Linked DNA regions of Homo sapiens: regions 1 and 2 are each linked to region 3. Evidence: fine-mapped expression QTL. A gene starts in region 3. Each other region holds a variant in brackets. All regions are shown on one strand. Distances are from middle to middle.

Region 1 (8,266 bases), 88 kb after region 3:
TGGGCTGGTCTTGAACTCCTTACCTCAAGTTATCCACCCTCCTTAGCCTCCCAAAGTGCTGGGATTACAGGCATGAGCCACCACACCCAGCCATTCTACTTTGTCTAACTTTTGTTTTGTTCAGCACTTGACAGCAACTGCTAGATGGCCGGAGCCCAGTGAGTAATTGTCAAATGAAAGAATGAAAGCAAGAGCGAGAATCCACAAAGGGGCTTGGCAGTGTCCAAGTCAGAGATGTTGCCAAGACAAAGTGAGATGCTGTATGTAAAGGGTCTGCATGTAGTAGGTGTGAAACTCACACATGCCATTTCTTCTTCATTTTCAACCCCACTAGCCATTATCCACACACACACATATGCAGTTCTGAATTTCTCAGAGGAATGATGATCCTGGGTAGGTGACATTTTCCTAATGTTAATGTTAATGTTAAATATTCTTTTGTGATGGTCAGGAATTGTTCTAAGCACTATATATATATATATATACCAATAGTATTGTTTCCAATATGTGTTAAATATTCAAGATTATTAGTAACATGATTGTACGGTGTGGTAGCTCATGCCTGTAATCCCAGCACTTTGGGAGGCCAAGGTGGGCAGATCACGAGGTCAGGAGTTCGAGACCAGCCTGGCCAACATAGTAAAACCCCGTCCCTACTAAAAATACAAAAATGAACCAGGCATGGTGCACATCTGTAGTCCCAGCTACTCGAGAGGCTGAGGCAGGAGAATCGCTTGAATCCGGGAGGCAGAAGTTATGGTGAGCCAAGATGACACCACTGCACTCCAGCCTGGGCAACAGAGCGAGACTCCGTCTCAATAAAAAAGAAGTAAGAAAGTGACTCTCAGGACTAACCAATAGTCATTAATTTGTTCAATTAGCCAAGTCTAGGTGAGCAGGGGCTGGGATCATTGTTGCATTTTACAGATGAGGAGCTGACTGGCCTCGGCTTCTGAAGTGGCCCAAGTCACGCTGTGCTCCGTGGCTGCTGTCCCTGGGGTTGGGGGTGGGTGTTCTCTCCTCTCCTGGGAGGCGCAGGGAGCCTCAGGGCAGCACAGTTGCTGGCTGGCTGGCTTCATTCGAGACTGATTTTTTTAATCGACATAAGGAGAGAAATGTCCACCCCAGTCCTGCCATTGACAGGGAGCTTGTCATCACCTGTTTACCTTGCAGTGGCCAGGACCTCCTCTCAGGCCTCACCTCACTGTGGCCCTGTTTCTCTTGGATGATGTTTTCTGGAGGGAAACGGGTCTGGCTCCCCTCACGGCTGATCCTTCCTGACCCAGGGGAGGAGAGCGGCGTTGAGTGGGTCCAGGCCTGGCTCGGCCATGAGAGCACAGCTGTCAGCTTCAGGGGTGACTCAGAGCGGGTGGAGCCCAGCTGGAAGGAGAAAACAAAACAAGGGAAGGGAGGGCTCACACTCGCCCCTGCCAGGCCCTGAGCTGCGCCACACACAAAGCCCACTCAGTGCTCACAGTGCCACCATGGAGTGGGGATAGGCTGGTTCCTCTTCCACAGCTCAGACAGCAAGGAGGCCCAGGGCAGGGGCCGACCTCAGCCTGGCACCATCCACTTCACACCAGTAGGTGTGAAGTTGGGATTCTGCATTGGCCGTAATCCTGACTTTACACCTACCGGCCGAGGGCCTTGGGTAGGTGGCTTGACCACTGTGGGCCTCTGTCCCAGCTCTGAAAGCTGGAGATGATACCCAGTACCTTCATCGGGAGCTTGTTGTGGGCCCAGCCAATGTGCACCGGTATTGTGCTTAGAACACAGTATAGAAAAGACAAAGGTGATGGTAGGTGTCCTCAGTGTTGACACATTACTGCTCTGTGCAGTCACCTCAAGTAGGGATGGTTTTTAACCCCCGCTTTATGGATGAGGAACTTGAGGCTCAGCAGCCCATGTAACTTCCTGGGGGTCACCGCAAACAGCCCCCCACCCCTTGTGGCAGCAGCTAAACCAACTCCCGACCTTCTATCCCCCCCAAAGCTCCACCCTCTCTTTTCAGTTGCAGCCCATGACACCTCCTAAGATCCTGCCCCTGGGAATGGGAAGAACACCTACTCCGGGGTAGCCACCCTGTAGAATACAGCAGGTTTTTTCTAAGGAGTCAAGCGGGTCTTGGGACTTGGGCATCTGGTTTTCTTTAGCCCTGGTGCACTTTTCCTGTGTATCCTTGGAAAAGTCACTTCCCGTTTCTGAGCTCAGCTTCCACATCTGTGGACTGAAGTGAGGCAGCAGCTTGAAGCGTGAGGATTTGATTCGGGGATCCAGGTGCTTATGAAGTTCTTGGAAGGGCAGTGAGAATGGGGGACCTCCAGGGTTTGGGCTGCAATGCTTCAGGTTGAGGCCCACAGGCCACGAAGCTTCAGGAAGTCAGGGCAGAATCTGCAGCTGCCCCGCTGCCTGGAGGTAGAAGAAGGCAGGTTCTGGAGTCCAGATTCTGGGGCAGCTACACAGCAGCTTCTACCACTGCCAGAGGAAGGAAGGCTCTTGCCTCGCCCACCTGCCCGTCCCAGCTATCACTGGTCAGATCTCAACTACTTCCAAAGCGCTATGGACAGGGATGCTGGGAAATGTAGTTCCCAGGCTTCCAGCCCCTGCAGTTAGGGGAAGCACACAGCGAGTGGGAACAAACTCTCACTCCTGTAGACAGTGGCCAGCATAGGAACCCCTGCTGGCAGCAAGAAACAGGGTGCCCTGAGAACCCTCGAATGCAGGCAGGATTGATGCAACTCTCAATATGGGATTTGAGCCATGTGGATTGCAGATACCACTCTAGCTTCTAGCCTTATTCGTTGATCATAGCTACAAGTTTGCTGAGTTCTTAAATGTTTCTGAACAGTCTCCCATCACAATTCCCAGTGCGTGATACCCAGGGAGCAGGGAGGGTTAAGGACATCAGCAAAGAGAAGGCCTCATCACCCAGGGTCAGCGGTATCAGGCCAGGAGTACCCCTTAGCTTCAGGGGGATGGACAGGTGGCAGGAATCCTGGGGCGGGGTGGGCTTTTTAAAGCCCAGCAAGGCTTCCAACCAGGTGCCTCTAGCTCTGACTCACTTGGCCCAGGTTTCTTATTAGGCTGATTCTCCAAATGAGGGATTAAAGTGGAGGTCAGACACACTCCCTTGTAATAACACAGGGGCACAAGGGACTGCGCTGGGAGAGTTCCATGTGGAAGTTCCACACACTCAGCTTCCAGAGACAGCATCTTCTTCCTGGGGACCCATGCCGAGCACAGAGTGTGTAGGAAAGGAGGGAAGGAAGGAGGGAGGAAAGAAACGTTTAGACATTGATCCCAAAGATACAAAAGACCTGGTCCAAGTTGGCTCTGCCATCTCCTAGTTGTTTTAACTCAATCCAGGTGCCTGCCCTCCCTCAGCCTCAGTTTTCTTGTCTGCAAGTTGACAGTGAAGGTAACTCCCGTGTATTAAGCATCTGTTAAATGTGAAGCATTTATGCACTTAACTCTCATGTGAACCTTTGAAGAGATGTGATTTTCCCCATCTTGCTGGTGCAGGCCCTGAGCCTGATGAGGTAGACGAGGTCCCTACCCAAGACCTCTCAGCTAGGAGGTCGGAAATTTAGGAATCAAACCCAGATCTGGCTGACCCCCAATACCCATATTCTGTTCACCACCCAGTGAATGGGGCTGCTGAAAGGGTCAAATGGATGGCAGCTGTGACTGTTTTGGCAAACTATAAAAAACAATGCAAAAAAAGAGATGACCCCCAATTCAAGACTGGCAGTCGGAGGTTGTGAGGTGGCCAGGCTTTCCTGCGGATGTGTAAATCTTGGATACTTCAGAAGACAATGCATCTGCGTTTCCAAGTGTGTGGGAAAAAAGACTGATTGGAGAGTGGAAAATTGGAGCTACCAGAGCAATTTTGAGGAACCTTTTCCTGGGGAAGATCAAAGCTGGTGGCAAACTCAGGTGGGCCTGACTCTCTACATAAGCCTCTGGGACCAGCTGCCTCCTGACCCAAGGCAAGGCTGTTGCAGAGTCTGGGTCTGGGAGCCCCTGGGAACCCTGACATTTCCCCCAGTGTGTTAGGAGCTCCTTCCTGCAGGTCCTGGGAGGTCTTGGCCACGGGAGTAGAAAGCATGAAGATTTAGCTGTTCAGCACATCAAGGAATTCACACAAATAATGAATTCGGCCAGAATCATCATTTGTGTAATACCACTGGTTTGCATGATTTGATGCCTGATTTCATTTGGTCTTTTAAATAACCCTGCGAGTAGGACAGGCCAAGGGTTCTGCTGGACTTTTTCCTTTTTGTTTACAAATGAGGACCTTGAAGCTTAGTGGGGAGAGACAGAATTGACCTTTGTGGTCATCTACTCTGTGGCGGGAACTGAGCTGTTCACTTTTGTGCAAGGCCATTTATCCCACAGCAACGCTTCGTGTGAGCATTTTTGTTTGTTTGTTTGTTTAAGATGGAGTCTTACTTTGTCGGCCAGGCGGGAGTGCAGTGGTGCAATCTCAGCTC[A/G]CTGCAACCTCCACCTCCCAGGTTCAAGCGATTCTCCTGCCTCAGCCTCCTAAGTAGCTGGGATTACAGGTGCCTGCCACCACACCCGGCTAATTTTTGTATTTTTAGTAGACACAGGGTTTCACCATGTTGGCCAGGCTGGTCTCGAACTCCTGACCTCGAGTGATCCGCCCACCCCAGCCTCCCAAAGTGCTGGGATTACAGGCGTGAGCCACCATGCCCGGCCTGCGTGAGCATTTTTAATCCTATTTTGTAGATTCAGGAATTGAGGATCAGAGAGGGCAAGTGCCTTGCCTATGAACACACAGCCAGGAATGGGAAGAGTCAGGATTTGCATGCAGGTCTCTCATGCCTTTGTTGTTGTTGTTGTTGTTGTTGTTGACAACTGTTGGCCATGATCCACTAGGAAATTCTTCACAAAACCAGAATAAATGGGTTCCAAGCGTCCAGTGACCAGGCATGGGCCGGACAGCAGTTCAGAAAGGAGTCATTCTTCTTACTGGAAGGTTTGAGGGCCATTAAGTATCCAAGATTTACTGGTCAGGTCTTACTTGGTCCCACCCTGTGCCCATACATGAAGCCAGCCGGCCAGGATCCCAAAGGCCAGGACATGGGAGGATCTGTTTTTCAATAATGGGAAGTCCCCGGATGTGTTGCATTGGAAGTCATCTCACTGTCTGTGCAGAGCTGGCCTGGGAGCAGGAGGTTCTGACATAAAGTGAAAGCAGATGCAGTGGGGCCGCTTGGGTGGGGCAGGGAGGTGGTGGCTGCCATGGCTGCAGCTGCAACTTTCCAGCCTGCAGATCTGCCTCTTCCTCCCACCATCTGTGCACTTGGCTGGTGTGAGGAGGTTTGCCTCGGCACCTCTGGGGCCTCTCTGGGCCCCATCCTCTTCTCTGAATTTGCCACGCCCGTGACACATACAGGCAACCACTCCAAGAACAGGAACATGGAAAGGCAAAGAAAAGATGCTGTGACTTCTACTTTGGGCAATGGCAGAAGCTTGTACCAGATCTTTTCTCCCACTGAGAACTATAAAAGCTGGAAAAACTTGAAATCCAGCTCTTTGAAGGCATTAGAGAACAACTAAAGCAGCCAGGACTTGAGGTGCGAAGACCCCCCAAGAGAAAGGAAATAAGTTGGGAGAAACCCAATATTCCCTGCTCATTTTCTGCACGAGGTATGTGCTGATTTTTGCAGAGGGTTCAGAGGACGAGCAGAGAGCAGCAGTTCAGAGTGTTTGGCAGTCTCGCAAGGTGGGGAAACAAAACAGAGATAGGTAGGTAGGTAGAGGGAGTCAGTGAGTTCAGGACTGCTAGGTCAACCAAAACCCAAGGAACCAAGAACCTAGAGCAAAAACAACCACAAAGAAAAGAACATGTGCTCTGTGCCTTCTAAAATTTTCCTTTCAAGGCATTTGCCAGCACTTAAGTTTCATGGGTCCAGAGTCTAAGAAACCAAGCAGAAAACAGCAGATGAAAAGCTAAAAAGACTGGGCATGGTGGCTCATGCCTATAATCCCAGCACTTTGGGAGGCCGAGGTGGGTGGATCGCCTGAGGTCGAGAGTTCGAGACCAGCCTGACCAACATGGAGAAACCTCGTCTCTACTAAAAATACAAAAATTAGCCAGGCATGGTGGCATGTGCCCATAGTCCCAGCTACTTAGGAGGCTGAGGCAGGAGAATCACTTGAACCCAGGAGGTGGAGGTAATAGTGAGCCAAGATCAGGCCACTGCACTCCAGCCTGGGCGACAGAGTAAGACTCTATCTCAAAACCAAAAACACAACAACAACAATGACAACAACAAAAAAACCCAAACAAACAAAAAAGAAAGGCTAAAAAGTTAAGCTTACGGTGATCTCATAGTACAGGGGAGACAGAAATTGGAGATAGGAGCCTGTAAGGAAGAGTCACCCTGATAAGCATCTTGGTTTACCTGTTGAGAACGGCTATGCCCCAGGGGTAAGAGTAAACCAGAAATAGACCAGTCTTCATGAAAAGTGAAACACAGCTGCAGTTAGAACAAAGTAATGTGCCACTTCTGTACCTGCTCATCAGGAGACAACCGGTCCTCTCTGAAGGAGGACAGCCTCATCCAGAGCCTCTGCATTTTTGTCATACACAATACAAACAGCAACCAGGCCTGCCAAGGACAGAACCAAATAACCAAAGAAAGAAAGAGCAACCGAGAAAATAGACAATAGAAATACACCCACATTATCCAAGTATCACAGGATATCCAATGTGGGCTTTAAGACGGCTGTGGTGAATAAAATTGCACAAAGATAGATGACAAGGTGGAGAAATTCACCAGCAAAGTAGAACCTGTCAAAAAATTAGGTAGAAATTCCAGAACTAAAAGACACCACTGAAATGAAGAACTGAATTCATAATTCAAATAGAGTAGGCACAGCAAGAAGGGGGAGTAAACAAGGCTGGAAAGATGACAGTAAACCAAGTCCAAAGAAGTTATCAGAAAGGGAATGGGGAAGATAGGGAAGATAAGAGCAGGTATTGATGGAATTGAATGATGAGCCACGGCTACACAGAAAGCCACAGGAGAAGGCAGGAGTCTGCCTTTGCTACCATTTTGCTGTGTGACCTTGGATAAGTCACTTGCCTTCTCTGGGTTTTAGTTTTTCATTTCAGGGAGACAAGCGTAAGGGTTACCCACCTCTCCTGGTGGCTTGGGGATCACATGAGGAAAGTTGTGGCCACTCTGTATTGAAAGCGTCAATTTTGCCAACAGCCTGCACAGTTCGCTCAGGCATTTCTCTAGTGACCATAGTGCCAGGGGCTGTGTGAAGGGCTGGGAGGGCATCCCAGCCTGTGATGGGTATTTACTACCATCCCGTTCAGTGGGTATTTACTACAGGTTCAAAACCCCGTGTGGTTCCTTCATTTGTGTTTCCAGGAGTTTCACACAGTTCTCTCAGTCTCTGGTCATTGCCCCTCAACTCCCTATTGCCAGAGGAGTTTATCTTCATTAGGGACTCTCCTTAGGGAAATTCTTACTTTTCAGTCCCCAAAAGTGTGCTGACATTTGTCAGTCTTGTGCTGGTGACCCCGCTAAGCTCTGTTGTGTGCAGGTGCTTCATGCCTCCTCGTATTGAGCATGTGGCTGGGAAATGACTGCCATTTGGCAGAGGACAGGGAGCCAGCTTCCCTCCTTCCCCATCCTTCCCTGCTCCCTCTCTTCTTTCTCCTTGTTCTGGGGGGCCCGGCCTCCCTCACCGCACACTTGACATGCAGAGATCTTTGGTCTGTGGCGTCTTGGCCCAGATGTCATTTCCGGGAGCCAGGGCTGGCATTCCCCCATGCCTGCAGGCTGCCCCACGCTTGCTAGAGCACGGAGAAGACATGCAGTCCTGGTTTCTTCCCTGCAGCCAGGGAAGGGGTATAGCGGTGTTCTTGCTTTTCCATTGCAGTTTTATCCAGGGCTTTGGAAAGCGCTAAATGATACCAGCTCAGAAGCCTCTGATGGTTATGGGGAGTGCCCTGGCCTTGGAGGTGTGGCTGCAGGATGCCCCAGAGGAGAGGAGGCTGTCACAGTCCCACAACCTGTGCAGCACAACCTTGCCCTCTGCCCTGCCTCTCACGCCATCCCTAGCAGCAGCCTAGAGCATTAATATCTCTCACGCAGAGGCAGGACATTGTAGGAAACCTGACCTCTCATCCAGAGCCTTGTTTGATCAACACGGATCAACAGTCATCTGTTTCAGGGAACTCATCTCTGCCCTGGCATTAGGGGTGCAGAGGCACTAAGGGCAA
Region 2 (8,000 bases), 100 kb after region 3:
CAGAAGTCTGAAAACAAATTATGGGCAGACTTGGCTCCTCCTGGAGGCTCTGAGGGGGAAGCCGCCCCAGGCCCGCTCCTGGCTCCTGCCAGCTGCCGGCAGTGCTGGGCGTTCCTGGGCTCAGAGCTGCAGCAGTCCAGCCTCTGCCTCCACTTCCACAGGGCCTTCCTCCCTGTATCCCTTTATGTCTCACATGTCCCTCTCCTTTTCTTATGAGGACACCTGTCATCAGGTTTAGGGCCCACCCTAATCCAGGATGATCTCATGCAGAGATCCTCAACAATTTCACCCACAGAGGCGCTTTTTCCAAATGTCATGCTCACAGATTCCGGTGACTAGCACTTGAACGTATCTTTTTGGGAGCCACTATTTCACCCACTACAGCTATTGAAATGCAAAAAGAGAGAGAGATCCTTATTCTCATGGAATTTTATTCTGGCTGGGAGGGGAAGATAAGAAATAAACAAGGTAGGCTCACACAGAAGTGCTTTGAAGACAGATCCAATGAGGTTTGTCATAGAAACTTAGAGGGGGCTTCTGTAAATGGGGTCACCAGGGAGGTCTCTGAGACAGCAGGACTCAAGTTGAGACCCACAGGCAGAGAAGGCAGCAGCCATGAGAAGAGCAGGACCATGCACTGCAGGTGTCTGGGACAGCGGGTGCAAGAGCCCGAGGGTGGCCTCTGCTGGATGTAATGGGGAGTAGAGGAGCTCTGCATGGCTGGGGGGCTGTAAATCAGGGGAGGTGCAGTGAGACGAGGCCTGAGAGTCAGCAAGACCCAGGGGAGGACTCTGGGATTTCTTGTAAGTGCAACAGGAAATCACTGTAGAATTTTTGTCAGGGGGTTTCATGATCTGATCTTGTCATTTGAAAGGTCATTCCCATGTTAAATGCAAAATAGATCGAAGAAGAGCAAGATATATGTGTTCATGTCTTATTTATTGAGCACCTACTATATGCCAAGCATCACTACATTGAGATGGAAAAGATAGAGTCTTTCCTTTCTTGGGTTGCAGGAGTGATGGGGAGAGAAGGGAAAACAGACAAACTCAAGCCAGGACCATAGGTGCTGTGCAGGAAGTGGGCACAGGAGCGATGGTCTTCATGTCCAACTCCCCTTGGAGCCTGGGGTTATCGCAGAAGGCTTCCTACAGGAGTGATGGCCAGGTTCATCATGAAGGATTCAGAGAGGTTATCCAGGTAGATTCTGGGGAAGGTCTATTTGAAATGAACAGAAAACATGTGTGAGACTTAGAAAGGTCAAAAGCCCTGGGCTATGCTTCCAAAGACCTGGCTGAGTCCTGGTTTGCTAATCTGTGTTGAGCACCACTGTGTGCAGGTCCTGGGGTGGGCTCTGGGGAGGTAACAGAGAACCGGGCAGGTAGGGTCTTTTCCCTTTCAAAGATCCAAGGGTCTAGGGAAGGAGGTGGCGAGCCAGGCATGGTAAGGATTAGGGTCTGCTCTCAGCCTCAGCACTATGGACTTGTGGGGCAGGATCAGCCTTAGTCACAAGGGCTGCCCCGTGCATTGCAGGATGTTTAGCAGCATCACTGGTCTCTACCTACTAAATGCTAGGAGTGCCCCATCCCCAGTTGCGATAGCCAGAAGATCTCCAGACATTGTCAGGTGTCCCAGGTGGGGTGTGCGTGTGTGTGGGTGCACATGCATGCACAAAGTTGCCCTCCCTTGAGAACCAGCAGGGTTGGGAAAATGACACATTGATGGCAGAGGTGGCTTCACACACATCCCATCTCCTCTCTGGATCTGATTCCCCCTGTAGCAGCAGTTGCTGGGACCACGTTAAGTCCAAACTTCCTCTTCAGAGCCTGGAGTCTGTGATGTTCAGTGTCACCATGGGATTCTGTTTACAAAGGCCTTTTGGGGACAAACAGGGTACTACACAGCCTGTTTATATAAACCAAACAGGAAGGGACCTTACACAACAGCAGGTAAAGGAGAAACTTGGGGGCCTTTGTCCTCATTTTACAGACAAGGAAACTGAAACTCAGAAAAGTTAGGTGACTTTTGCAAAAGAGAACATCAAATCCAACCTCTGGAAATACCGTATTAAAAACTGTTATTAGAGAGTATCACCAAGACAGTATCGATCTTTCTTCTTGGGGAGGGCGGTTTCTAAAACTCTTAGGCTGGTGTCGCCCAGGAGGGTTAAAAAGGCGTAAGGGAAAAACATCAGCTTCTGGATATAAGCCATGTGTCTTCAAAGAACACAGGCTATAATGTAGACTTAGGAACTGGGGCCTGGCATCAGCGTTCCTAGGTTTTGTCGCAGAGTTTGTAGGTCCCATCAGGAGTGACTTTGAAGAAGCTCTTCATCTCACTGAGTCTCAGCCTCCTTCGTGTTACATGGGAGAAATGTTACTTCACCAGGTTCTCTACAACCCTGCAAACATTAGTTTTAACAATTGTATTTATTTTTGTTGGTTTAATGGGCAAGTAATACTGAACTTAGGTGGGTTTTTTTTTTTTTTCAGTACTAATTAAGGCTGAATATATTTCCACTTAGTTGTTTCCCATTTACCAGATGTCTTCCCCTACCTGCAGCCCTTCTCTGCAGTCTTTTTCTGAAGTTTAGCCTCTGGTGGCTGATCCCAGGGCAGCCACTTGGAAGGAATGGGGCTTCACCCTCTGGAAATCAACAGAAAGGAGCAGGGCTTTAGAGCTTTGGGGTTCTAAAAAATGCACAGATAATACGGAAACCACACGCTTTGAATAAAGAATCGGGATACAGGCATGGAATATCTGACAACAAAGCCATCCTGAGAACTCCAGGCTGCGCCATTGCTCTGCTTAAAGGCCCCCCTGCAGGCAGGACCATTTCATGAATGGAACTGGACTTGGGTCATGATATGGTTTGGCTTTCACCCAAATCTCATCTTGAATTGTAGCTCCCACAATTCCCACGTGTTGTGGGAGGGACCTGGTGGGAGATAATTAATCATGGGGGCGATTTCCCCCATACTGTTGAGGGGGTTGGAAGAATCTTAGGTGAGAATGTGAGGTCCCGAGCTCCCATCCTGCCCTGAGCTTCATAGTCCTCCTCAGTCAAGTGGGCATCACAATTCCAGCTCGTCCCAGCCCTGGCAGGAACAGGGACACAGGAGCAGTCACCAGGGCTCACTCTTTTAGTTGAGTTGAGTTGAGTTGAGTTAAATTGAGTTGAGTTGAGTTTACAAATCAGCCCCGTGCCCTGCAAGTGAAGAGACTGCACCACCATCCCAGGCTGGACCTACTGACCCCTGTGACCCTCTCCTCGGGTCTCTGTCCCAGACACCCAGGAACAGGGATTCCTTCTTCCCCAGTCCCCATGTCCAATTCAGAGACAAGCCATGTCGAATGCTGACTCTGCCTTCTCTACTTGCCCCCAACTTGGGAAACCGTTTTGTGATACGCAGGGGACATTCTCAAGGGACAGAAAGAGTGCGACCCTCCCCTGATTTCCGCCCCCTGCCCTCCTAAGGCATCTTCCCATCCCAGACATCCATGCCCAGTGCCCAAATGCAAAATAATACCATCATACTGTCCACCCGGCGCCTAGCACCAACTCTGGCCAGGTCCTGGGCCCAGCTTTCCAGGTACCACTGCTTCGCCCTTACCACCCCCACCACCAGGAGGGTGTAGGTATCTCATTGTCCTCACTTTGCACTTACCAGGTCACCCACTGTCAAAGGGCACAGTCAGATCCCCTTGTAGTTAAAGGACATGGTCTGGAGTCAGGCCCAGGATATTCAAACTGTTTTGGTCCTGGGAAACTCACTTCACCTCTGTAAGCCTCAGTTTCCTCACCTGTAAAATAGGTCTATAAGATCACCTTTCTCATAGAACCATTATAGAAACTCAGTGAGAAGCTGCCTATCAGGTTATCAGCACAGGGTCCTGCATAGGGCAACCATAGAACATGCGCTTCTGCTCAGGGTGAGCCATCTGAGTCCTGCACGAGCCATTTCTAAGCACCGCCTGTCCCGGCGCTAACCTGTCCACCCCACCTGTCCACCCCACACGGCACCGGGGATGTGATAGGGGCTCAGTTGTGATGAGTTGAATGAATGAATGTGTGTTAGCTTTAGCAGTTGTCATTCACTTATTCAATGGACATATCTTGAGCCTGTACTACCTAGCATGCTTGTGTCTGCTGCTTGGATGCCAAAGGGGCCAGGGAAACCAACAGCAGCTGGGGATTGGAATGAGGCCTGCGGTGAGGCCCCAGTGGTGCCACCCATGTGTGGAAGGCCAGAGACTGATATTTCCAGGGTCCAAGGGAGGCTTCTCAGAAGGCGATGCATCATTCATTGGCCGTGGAAGGAGGAAGGAGGATGGGAAGGGAGCGCGGGTACCTCTTCCCAACACTCTCGGGACGGGTGTGGCCTGTGGATAGGGAGGACTTCCAGCCATCGTGCCTCAAGACAGGACAAACTCTGCCATAGCACAGGCTCCAGAGTTCCTGTGGATCATGCCCGAGTGCAGGGTGAGGTGAGGCACCCAGGGCTCCAGCTTCAAGGAGATGTCCGCTCTCGGGCC[G/A]TGCCCCTGGGCATGAGTGGGCCTCCTTATCCCACTTGCCCGACTCCTCACTCGCCTCGCCCCCAGCCTGCAGTGCTTGACTCCATGGAGACCTCCCCTTCCTTCTCCTGCCTTGCTTCTCATCCCTCTCCAGACAGCACCCACCATGGACACCTGCATCCGTGCCCCAGCCTCTGCTTCCAGGGAAGCTGACCCGAGGCCCCGTGCTTCCCAAGGAGCTCAGGCCACCAGGCGGCAGGCATTGATTGAGCGCTGATTGTATGCAGATTGAGCGCTGATTGTATATACTTGGAAACTAGTCTGGAAGGCTGGAGAGGGCGTGTCCCTGAACTTCCAAACACTCTGTCCTGTGTTCATATCAGTAGCACTGTCATACTTTTTTTTTTTTTGGCATGGAGTTTCTCTCTTGTTGCCCAGGCTGGAGTGCAATGGCGTGATCTCGGCTCACCACAACCTCCGCCTCCTGGGTTCAAGTGATTCTCCTGCCTCAGCCTCCTGAGTAGCTGGGATTTCAGGCATGCACCATCACGCCCAGCTGATTTTGTATTTTTAGTAGAGACCGGGTTTCTCCATGTTGGTCAGGCTGGTCTCAAACTCCTGACCACAGGTGACCCACCCGCCTTGGCCTCGCAAAGTGTTGGGATTACAGGCGTGAGCCACCGCACCTGGCCAGCACTGTTGTTCTTTTATTGCCACTGACAAAAGGCAGAGAAAACCAGAATATTTCTTTCCCAAAACAGTGACGCCACATGGAGTAACCTGCCTGCTCCATCTCAGCTGGTGTGGGGAGGACTTACTATGATAATCTAGAGAAAGAGCCAGTTTCCCATCTGAGCTCTACCTGGCCCTGCACTCACTCTGGGACCTCAAGTGAGCCCTTTCCAGGGTCTGGGCCTCCATTTCCCCTTTTGCCAATGAAAGATTGGAATGGGTCTGAGATTTCTGAAGCGTGGGGCTTGTGATGTTAGGTGAGGCAGGGCACTAGAGAAAGTCGCATCACAGAGCCCGGAGGTCATTTCTGCCGTCCCTCCTTCCCACCTGTCTCTGCAGTGCTGGGGCTTCAGTTTGGCCTGGTGTCTTACTTTGCACCTTGTCAGCGCTTGTCAGCCTTGTTCTAAGGGAGAGGAGAGTTTGCCTGGGCAGGCAGCAGGGTAGAGCTGCAACCGAATACAGTAGTTTTGTTTTCATTGCATTGTACAACTACCATTTTACTTCTGCCAGGTAATTCTTGCTTTCTACGTGTGGTAGAGATGAGAGGTTTCCTTTCTAATAAGTTTATTTTTATTATTTGGCCAGGCATGGTGGCTCACACCTATAATCCCAACACTTTGGGAGGCTGAGGCGGGTTCATCACCTGAGGTCAGGAGTTCGAGACCAGCCTGGCCAACATGGTGAAACCGTGTTTCTACTAAAAATACAAAAATTAGCCAGGCACAGTGGTGCACACCTGTAATCCCAGCTGCTTGGGAGGCTAAGGCAGGAGAATCCCTTGAACCCAGGAGGTAGAGGTTGCAGTGAGCCGAGATCGCACCACTGCATTCCAGCCTGGGCGATAGAGTGAGACTCCATATCAAATCAAATCAAATCAATCAATCAATCAATCAATTTATTTTTCTTAAATAAGTCATTAAAGAAAAGTAAGTCAGTCAGAGTCCAGCAGGATGATGTGGTGCTGTGTGAAGCAGGCAGCATACTCTCCACACACGTCCATGGCCGAGCTTGAGTCCTGGCTTCTCAGGCCTCTGTGGCACCCAGTAGACACTCAGTAAATGTCACTGCATGATGGATACACGGTGCCAGGCTCCCAAATCAAAGTAGCGGCGTGATGGAAGGCCACCCCCTGGGCCTGGGCACATCTTTACAAGCCTAAGGGGCACAGCAGCCCTTGCTAGTTGGAGACCTCCATGGAGGTTCAGGGGAGTCTGGCTGTGGTCCTCTACCCTGGGGCTCTCAGAGTGTAGTCCCCCCACCAGCCCTGGCAGCAGCATCACCCAGGAGTCTGTTAGAAATGCAGGATTTCGGGGCCAGCTTTAAACCTACTGAGTAAGATCTGTGCCTTAGCAAGCCTCCAGGGGGTTTTCCGCACATTCAGGATCATGGAGCCACCCTGGATGATCCCATCAGAATCAGGCATTTTATCTGGATATCACATCTGTGTGTGTGACAACATATTCATAATATTTATCATTTTCACCACTTGTGTGTGTACGATTCAGTAGCATTAAATATATTCACAGTGTGTGTAACAATCACCATTATCTATAACCATAACTAGCAGATTTTTGTCATCCCAAGCAAAAACTCTGTCCCCATTAAACAGTAACTTCCCCTTACCTCCTCCTCCTCCCAGCCCCTGACAGCCACGCTGCCACTCTCTGTCTCTATGAATTTGACTACTCTAGGTACCTCACATAAGTGGAATCATATAATATTTTTCCTTCTATGTCTGGCTTCTTTCATTAATCATAATATTAGTATTTTCAAGGTCCATCCATGTTGTAACCTATTTCAAAATTTTCTTTTTATAGCTAAATAATATCCCATCATATGTCTGGAACGTACTATGTTTGTTTATTCATCCATCGCTGGAGACTGGGTTGCTCCCACCTTTTATCTATTATGAATAATGCTGCTTTGAACATGGGTATACCAATATCTGCTTGAGACCCTGCTTTCAATTTCTGGGGGTATATACGTAGGAGTGGAGCTGGTAGGCCACATGGCTGTTCTGTTTAACCTTTTGAAAAACCACCCAGTTTTTACCTCGGCTGCACGGTTTTACATCCCCACCAGCAATGCACGAGTTCCATTTTCTCCACATCCTCACCGATACCTGTTGTTTTGCCCTTTTACTTATGATAACTGTAGCAGTGGGTGTGAAGTGTGGTCCAGATCATGTTGCTTCCCATGACGTGTCTAACGGTCTTAAGCCAGAGGAGAGGCTGCCTGGGTTTAACTGGAAGAGCAATCTGGTTCTGCTTGTGTGCCTCCCCTTGGGGCATCCGATTCCTTCCATTGCAGTGGGGACTGGGTGCCCCGGGATCTCCCTACATATGCCCAGGTCACTCATCTTCTGGACAGTGGCCAAAGCCACTGCTGGCCACTCCTTCCTCTCCCAGCCACCCCTTGCCCCTGGGGCCCGGAGTAGCCGATGGGAATCACCCCACAGCTTATCACCCCTACCCCAAAATCCAGGGTCTGGGCTTTCCAAAGGCCAAGATTCCAAGAGCCAGAGTTAGGGTTGTGTGGTGGGAGAAACCTGCTGGTGGGTTTCTAGAAGCCTGGGTTCAAATCCTGGTTTGTATTTGGGATGAGTTGCTTACCTCTCTGGCCTCAGAGCATCCTACCTCACCCACAGTGAAATGACACAGCACTGTGGCATGGGGACAAGGTCAGATGCAACACTTTTATGAAATCTCTCCAGGGTTTACCACGAGTGAGGAAGGCTGAGGCACCAACAGGCA
Region 3 (8,266 bases):
TGACAGGAATTTATCAGTGTCATCAGAGGGGACCACTCTCATATACGCATTCCTTTTTTGACCAAAACGTCATTACTCAGTGAACGACTGTACATGTGAGAAGTGTGGCTGGGTTCTGCCAAATAGTTTACTAACTCAAATGCCTGCCAAGATTCTCAGAGTCAGGACCATGTCTCCTACACTCCCTCTAATGCATCATCTCCTGGAGGACTGTCCTTCTGCACAGTCATTCATGGGATGAGCTCAGGCTGCCTGGGCAGTCCATCCAGTATTGGATTGGTGATTCATGACTCTGTAGATGAGGCCTGTCAGTCAGATTCCTCTCCTGGAAAAACTAAAACACCTGGTGGAACCACAGTGGGAAGTGAAGCTGAAAAGATTATTTCCACAATTGCCAGGATGCAGAAAGGCTGAGGCCATAAACATGCAGAAAACTTTAGAACAGACCCCAGGATTTAACAGAGAAAGCCTGTGGGCAGAGAGAGAACAGAGCGGAGAGGGGGAGGGGGGGCAGCGGTGGGGGTCGGGAGGGAGACAGAAACACAGAGATGGGCTCTCTCTCCTTGCAGCTTGTTTTCAGCTTCAGTCTGCACATCTCTACATTAAAACTCTTTTTTCTAAAGAAACTTGAGTGAGTTCCTCACAGTCCCAAGAGCCCTAAGGAAAACACTGTCTAAAACACAAAACACCATGTGCTGTGCCCAGCACCTCTGAACTCATCTCTGACAAGTGGTGCAGCCCTTTTCTTTTCTGCACAATCACCCAAATGGGACCAGAACCCATTAGGATCTTTCCACTCTGCTGTGCCAAGAAACGGGGGTAGGGAAAGGATGAAATCAATTTCCTTAACCATCATTACTGAGAGCTTTGCTGGTGCTCCAAAAGGTAGGAGGTGGCAGCATGCAGTAAATCAATGTCAGCGCTCCCTGGAGACCCACTGTGAAGACACTCCCAGTAATGACTATGATCCTTGTTCTCTGGCAGGATGTGATGGGACATACACTCAGGGTGACAAAGAGGAATGCATGCACACACTTCTGACACACAGCCCCTGGCAAGGGTCCTAAAAGGGGGTGTTAAGAGAGCTACTTGCATGGAATGTCAAAACTCTGGAAAAAAAGGGAGAGGGAGAGGCTGTCCCTGTTACCTGGGAAGAAACTTAACAGAAAGAAAGTGGGGCTTTCAGAAAAGGCCTTGCCCAGGTTAACCCTTCAGAGATGAACTAAAGATGCATCTGATGTACAATGTTTTATTCAAATAAGGTGGTGATTTATGTGTGTTTCACCACAATGTCAATTAATAAGGAATTTCCATCTCACTATGGAGTCATCCAGGGGAACTTCCAAGACATGGTCCTGAAGCCTCCCTCCAACCCTGAGAATCTTGGTGGGATTTGCGTTAGCAGAACTGTTTGGCAGAACCCATACAATCTACACTATTCACATATATAGTCATGCATTGGATAACATTTTGGTCAATGATGGACCACATGCATGTAAGACAGTGGTCTCACAATATATTAATGTAGCTGAAAAACTCCTGTGCCTAGTGATCAGAACATCAACTCAATGCATTACTCACATGTTTGTGGTGATGCTGGTATAAACAAAACTACTGCACTGCCAGTATTGCACGTGGAATACATACAGTAAGAACTCAGCTAAAACTGAGCTGCTTTTGGTTCTTGGCTGCAAAGTGCAACAGCTGGATGACCTGGGGCTCCTTACTTGCCAAATCTGATCCTCTTTCCACAGAATCTACTAGGATATAGTAGCATAGTCTTATATGAGTATAGCATTTTCTATTTTTCGAATATGTTCCCATACATTATTTGATCCATACAATAAACAACACTTTTGTTATTTCATCCAAAAACTCTTTATTGGCCCAGACGATATTCCCAGCCAAAGCTAAAAGTCTGGTGCATGTTAGAAGCTCTTCTTTGCTGGAAGACGCTGCTGGTGGAGGGGACAGTAGCCGATGTAAGCAGAACTCTCTGCCCCCCTCCTCCCATGCACACAAGCAATCTGGAGATGCAGTGAACACCTTGACCTGAGTTTCAGAAAGAGGAAAGCCCACAGGATGTGTCCAGGCAGACAAAAGGGCTCACCCCTTCTCTAGAATTCTATCAAAAACCAAGGGCGTCAGGCAAGAGGTCTCAGAGCAGGTCCCGAAGTACCTAAAAGGCTATTCATCTTTTCCTTCCCTTTCTAGTAGTTATTTTTCTCATTCTCTCTCCTCCCCCTTTTAAAAGCTGGTTTTTCTTCTACTTTTCTCATCTCTGAATATTTCTCCTTTTCTCTCCCAAGTCCCTGAAGTCTTCCCCAACACCCTAGCCCCCATCTTCTAGCACAGGTCATCTTCCTGCTGTGGGCAGGGACCTGACACTGGAGAAACCCACCATCTACACAGCTGACTTACTACATGTCAAAGACAGTTCTAAAGGTTCTATGTGTACGAATTCACTAACTCATCACAACAGCTTTATCAGACAGACACTTCTTAGGTCGGTTCTCACAGATGAGGACACCGAGGCACAGAGTCACCTAGGCTGGGAGGTTCAGTCACTAGCCCAAGCTCACACATCCGTTGAGTGGCAGTGCAGGATTTGAACCAAGAAGTCCGGCCATGCGGGCCCTGGCCTGAATCCCTGTACTACAGCAGCCGTCTGATGAAACAAAGGCTGGGGGACTCTCCCCTTCCACTGCAAAAGGTTGATCTCTCTCCAGCTGGAGCAAGGGGCGCTGGAAGGATGCAATGACCCCAAAGGCAAACTGTGCCTCTTTCCTCTAACATTCCTCCGAAAAGTTGCGAAAGAGGTAGTCTCAGTAAGGGGTTAAGAACCGTAAAACCAGATTTACATGACTTGTGTACTGCATTTAGCATCAAAGCGCTGCACTCTGCCTTTCAGCAAAAGAAGTCTCCACCGCCCCCGCTTCCCTGTAAAAGAGGGAGGGCTGAATAACTGCAAGCCTAATCCGCAAACCCCAAGCTCCAGCCGCAGCCTCCGCATCTGGAAGGAAAAAGCGGCGGCAGGCGAGCCAGGGCAAGGGCTGGGCCAGGGCCGGGGCCGGGACCAGGGCCGGCCGCAGTGCCCGGCTCTGTGGCTCTGAACGCGGTTCTGGCCGCAAGAGTCGTCCAGCCCACGCTCCTCCCTTCCCCCTCCCTAAATCCCACCTCGAGTCCCGCGCCCTTAGAGGAAGTGGGTGGCTCTGCCCGGTCGCCAGCAGGGGATCGGCCCCTTCTCCCCACCGTGCCCCCGACTCGAGTTCTTCTGGGCACTGCCATCCTCTCGGTGCGTGCCCGTCTTCCTGCTGAAACGGACCCCAGTGGCTCCCGGGCCTCCCGGGCGCTCTTCCTTAGCCCCGCCAGCTTGAGGGCCGCGTCCAGAGAGCGGGGAGCTCCTCTCGGGGCGCCGATCAGGTCCCCGCGCCGCAGCCGCCGCCTCCGGCGTCTCCCAGGCTCGGCCTCTGCCGAGCCCGCTGCGGTCCACGTGGCTTGGCAGAGCTAAATTCGGCTTGCAGGAAGCCCGGAGCCAAGGGAAAGCCGAGCCAAGTTGGGGTGGGCGGGGCCGAACGGAGGCGCAGAGTCGGGAGGGGCGGGCACTGGGCGGAGGAAGGGGAGGGCCGCGCGCAGGGGAGGCGGTGGCTGGGCTCTGGCGCGCCCTGGCACCCGGCCCCGGCCGGCCAGGGAAGGCGGCCCCTCCTCGGTCGCCCCGCCTTTCACTCCCGTTACACCCGGGGGAAGGTGTTCCCGAGCCCTCTCCCACCCTCATCCCGCCTCCTCGCTTCCTCGGCTCCAGCCTCCGCCGGCGGAGCCCACTATGCCAGACAGTTTCGACACTTTGCAAAGACAAAGAGCCCTAGACCGGAGGGAGGAGGAGGAGGAAGAAGAGCGGAGAGAGAAGGAAGAGGCGATGTGAGCTGGGAAGGGGGCAAGTGTCCGGGACACCCACACCCCTGTATTCTCCTCCGAACCCCTTCATGCCCAAATCCCGGAAACTCCAGCGTGTCTCCAGCCGTGGTGAGTGCGCGCGCGGAGGCGAACCCTGCTCGGGGTGCGCGGGGGCTGCGTCCGCCTGAGTTGGGGCTCGGGCAGTTTCCTGTGGATTCTCGGAGTGGAAGGTTGATTGTCTGGACCCGGGAACTGAAGGGGTGGGGAGGGGACTAGGAGGGTGTGACAGTGGAGCTGGGACTGAAGACCCCGGGATTCTAGTGGAAGACATTCGAAGGGAGACCCCTTCCTTGGCAGCGGCGACCACCCAGGGCTTTGGGAGAGGAAGAAGGTCGGGGTGGAGGTTCGGGCTTAGGGGTCTTCGGCCGACACTGGAGGAGCTGCCTGGAGCTCTGTGGGGAACCTACGCCAAGTCCCGGGCAGCGGTTCCCGAAAGCAGCCCCAGTGACATTGCACCCGGCGCCGGGCTGGGATCTCCTCCGCTGGGGCCGCCCGTGGGAGGAGACCTCGCTGGGTGGCCGGGCTCAGGCGCTCTCGAGCGGATTTGGGGTCACAGGCTGGGACACCGCGGAGGCCGCCAGTGTTCTGGACGAGCGGCCGTGGGACAGTATCCGGATCGAGTCCCCCAATCCGCTGCAAGCAGGCGCAGATCCGGGAGGTGGCTATCGGCCCCGGGGACGCCGTCAGAGCGCGCTGCTCCGGATCTGGGGGTGAAGTTGACACCCGGGACAAGAGAGCTGAACGCGGCGTGGCGGACAGTGGGGGACGCGGGTGGGCCAAGGAGAGCACGGCCGGAGTCGTGTTAGTGGCAACTCGAAACTCTGAATCCGCCCCAACCCCGTGAGGCGTCGCAGCTCCCAAGAAATAATCTGACAAAAGTTAGCAACTTGCCTGTGTCTCTCGTGTGTGTGACCTGCGTGGGGGCAGGGCCACCCCTTCTGGGAGCGCACGGGGACGGACAGCGGTGACCCTGGGGCGAGGCGCTCTGGTGAGGGTACAGTTAGTTTGGAATCGGGACGGTGGCGCAACTTTCCGCTCCTCCTTTCTCTGCGCGAGTGTTTAAGCGTGACCTTGCGGGAGGAAGCGCGGCTGAACTTGAGATGGGGGTTGAGCTTGCGCCCCGGCTTGGCACAGAGACGTCGGAGCGCGCATTAGCCTGGCCTTGCAGCCGGGTCTCCCAGGAAGCGTGTGGGGATCGTCTGGCTCTGCTCGTCAGCTGGAGCCCTGACTCGCTCCTCCCTCCTACGCTAGGGTCCTCGGCGGCCGTACCATGCGCGGGGCTCGGTGGTGTGTTGGGCGAGGGGACACGTGCGCACCCAGAAGCGCGCAAGGGGGTGGGGGTTGGGCAGGTCACTGCGTCTCGCGGGCTGGGCGAGTCCCGCAGAGGGAGTCAGCCGTGACCCTGAGGGCAGTGACTGGCTCGCCGCGTCCCTGCATCAGGCATTCGCCCGGCTTTCTCGTGATTGTTTCCGGGCACCCCTGGCCTCTCCCGACTTCTCCCCCTCGCGGGTCCCCAAGCCCCGCAAGTTTGCGACGAGCTGGTTCTCCAGGGAGACAGCGAGCGCCCACCCCCGCTCTGCGGCTGGGTGTGTGTGGTGAGAGGAAGAGACGGGAGGAGGAGGCGAGGCCGACTCGCCAACGAGGAAAACGGGGTGAGAGGGGAGCCGGGTTTTCCAATAGTCGCCAGGGCGCCTGGCACGTCGTAGGTGCTAACGCAGTGTTCATTGACAAGGCCCCAAGGTGGAAGGTGCTGGCAGGGGCCCGGACGCCCCCTTCTTCCCTTCCAGTCTCTAAAATGGAGTTCAAATGTATCGACCAAGCCCTTTAGGCTTCTAGACGTGCCTGGAGCACCTACTACGTGCGGGGGCTCTACTCCTGGCCTGTTCGTAGAAGCTGCGGGCGGAGCCTCCTGATTTTCTTTACCCCGCGCTGCCCAAGCGCCCAGAGGCTTCGAAAAGGCAAGGTGCACTGCCCCCTGCCGGCTGCTGTGGAAACTGCCGCTTGTCTCTGCGGTGGGGAAGGGGCGCCCAGTGCGGGGGTCCCTCAGTGCCTTCCCGCACCTCCCCTTCCTGCCCCAAACATTAGGACCCCTGCCGGCTGTTTTCTGAAATCCCATGGTTGGCTGAAATGACTGACTAGAGTTCACCACTCCGTGCCCCTCAGCCTCTGCCAATATCTGGGTACAGCGTGGGGCCTCTTCTAGTCTCCCGTCTCTCTGTCTCTGTCTCTCTTTGGTCGCCAGACTTAACCTCTCGGCGTCTCAGTTTCTATATCTGCAAAATGAGGCCAATAATACATTCTCCAAAATACGTTCTGCATAATTGCGAGTGGCGATAATACATATAATTAAGTGAATGTGTGTATGTATAGGTAGTTCATACTCTACATGTGTGTATGTGTATACCTTGACTTCAGGTCTAGGGAAAAAAGTTCCATCGTACACTTTTTGCTAAATAAAGAATGAATAGAGGGCTCCTTCTCCTCTTGCCTTTTCAAAATCCCACAAACCCTGAAGTTTGCTTTCCCTGCATTTTTCTGGGCCGGCATTTGCTGTTTAGAGTCTGATTGGACAAGGCCAGGACCTGGGCTTGAGCAGGGCCTTTGTTGCCTACCTCCCTGGCTGGGAGGCCACAGCACCCCACCCAGGGTGAGAGAGAAAAACAGGAAGCGTTGCTAGAAGTGATGGCAGAGGAGGGTTTCTTAGGGAGTGTGGAGTCTGTTCCTCGAAGCTCTGCAGCAGCAGGCGGAAACTGCCTTCTGAGCAGCCTTCTTGCTGATTGTAATCAGGGCTGTACTGCCCCCCTTCCCTGGTGGCGCTCACAGCATTGGCTGTCGCTGATCTGGAAGCCCTTCTTATGGGGATGAAGTCGTCTGTGAGCTTGACAGGAAGGAGTCCTTCTAGGTCCTGGGTCTTTGGGGGTGAGGTAGATCTCTGTCTCCCCTCCCCACCAAGCAGCCCCCGAGCCAGGACACCACCCAAAGGCAGGCAGTTGACATTACCCAAGGAAGGGCCCTCTCCCATGTGTGACTCTGAGGCTTCTGGTCAGGTAACCTTGCTTGAGTCAGTTCCTGTGTAGAAGGTTGCTGACTCAAAGGGTTTATATTTGGGTAGAGCTTTGGCCAGGGATCTAAACATTAACCCTCACTCTAGGCCCCTCCCACACCACCAAAAGCGACCAGGAAAGCAAAAAATAAAATCCACCAGCCATCTTGTAAAAGCTTTCCAGTGAGTTCTGCATGCCTGTGTGCATACACTCCACAGGCTGATGGAAGAGCTGGCCCGGTCACAAAGAATTCTAGAATAAGACTTAGATGCAGCTTCGTTCCGTTGTGTAGACTTTGTGGAAACTTCAGCATCCCTGCTGGCACACCTGAGGAGCTGAGAGCTCTCTTCTGCTCTAATTTGGTCACAGGAGCCCAGACCGGGGCCCTGTGAGAGCCTGCATTTGAGTCCCAGTGGCAGCGCTCAGTTACTTTGCAACTTGGCTCCCAAACTATTCCAGGCTCTGGGTCTCAGTTTCACTCTCAAAATAAGAGGCTTGGCTGGGCACAGTGGCTCAGGCCTGTAATCCCAGCACTTTGGGAGGCCGAGGTGGGTGGATCATTTGAGGTCAGGAGTTTGAGACCAGCTGGCCAATGTGGTGAAACCCTGCCTCTACTGAAAATACAAAAATTAGCCGGGCATAGTGGTGGGCTCCTGTAGTACCCAGCTACTCAGGAGGCTGAGGCAGGAGAATCACTTGGACCCGGGAGGTGGAGATTGCAGTGAGCTGAGATCGTGCCATGGCACTCCAGTCTCGGCGACAGAGTGAGACTGTCTCAAAAAAAAAAAAAAAAGAGAGCAAGGCTTTAGAGTTCTGCTGCCCGTCACTGAGGGTCCATTAAAAGCTTCTCTTTGTGAAGACAGCCACCACCTGATTTATGTTTGCTTCAGCCAGCATCATCCTCAAAACCCTCCCGGTATCACAGACAACCCTGGCTTGGGGCAGCTGGACTGTCTACTACCCCATGCCAAGGGCATCTCCCCTCTCAAAGAGTGGCCAGGACCATTCGGAGCCCACACCCGCTTGGCAAAGTCATTTTCTAGCAGTTCTCAACGCTAGATTTTGAAAGCAGTCCCAGAAGTTTCAGACTCTGAGGTCTGAAACCTGACAGAGCCAGGGTGCCATCTGTGGGGACTCCCAAATGGTACATATTGCAGAAGGAACCCCAGTGATCTCACCAGGGCCTGTTTTGCTTCCCATCCACAAGCTGAACATGACCTTAGAAATCACTTTGGTCAGCCCTTTCACTTTAATGTAAAAATATTGAG

What was found. PIP is the estimated chance that this variant, and not a neighbour inherited with it, causes the effect.
Region 1: its variant is the best candidate, but not a certain one, in a credible set for the expression of ST3GAL1 in whole blood (TOPMed, PIP 0.83).
Region 2: its variant is the best candidate, but not a certain one, in a credible set for the expression of ST3GAL1 in blood mononuclear cells (TOPMed, PIP 0.68).

Annotation. Positions count from the first base shown.
Region 1 is chr8:133,479,513-133,487,778 of GRCh38, reverse strand. All of the region lies in intron 3 of ST3GAL1 (ST3 beta-galactoside alpha-2,3-sialyltransferase 1), which reads left to right. Among named protein-coding and RNA genes, the nearest start is that of ST3GAL1-DT, 87 kb to the left of the region's middle. RefSeq lists an enhancer at 5,088-5,137. The variant A/G (reference allele first, on the strand shown) is at 4,494.
Region 2 is chr8:133,467,345-133,475,344 of GRCh38, reverse strand. All of the region lies in intron 5 of ST3GAL1 (ST3 beta-galactoside alpha-2,3-sialyltransferase 1), which reads left to right. Among named protein-coding and RNA genes, the nearest start is that of ST3GAL1-DT, 99 kb to the left of the region's middle. The variant G/A (reference allele first, on the strand shown) is at 4,537.
Region 3 is chr8:133,567,450-133,575,715 of GRCh38, reverse strand. ST3GAL1 (ST3 beta-galactoside alpha-2,3-sialyltransferase 1) reads left to right here and starts at 3,829. Exons shown (of 10, transcript NM_173344.3): 1 at 3,829-4,023. ST3GAL1-DT (ST3GAL1 divergent transcript) reads right to left here and starts at 5,144. Exons shown (of 2, transcript NR_186509.1): 1 at 4,846-5,144; 2 at 1,860-4,658. RefSeq lists silencers at 3,080-3,139, 3,330-3,819 and enhancers at 5,610-5,829, 5,189-6,042, 6,000-6,069.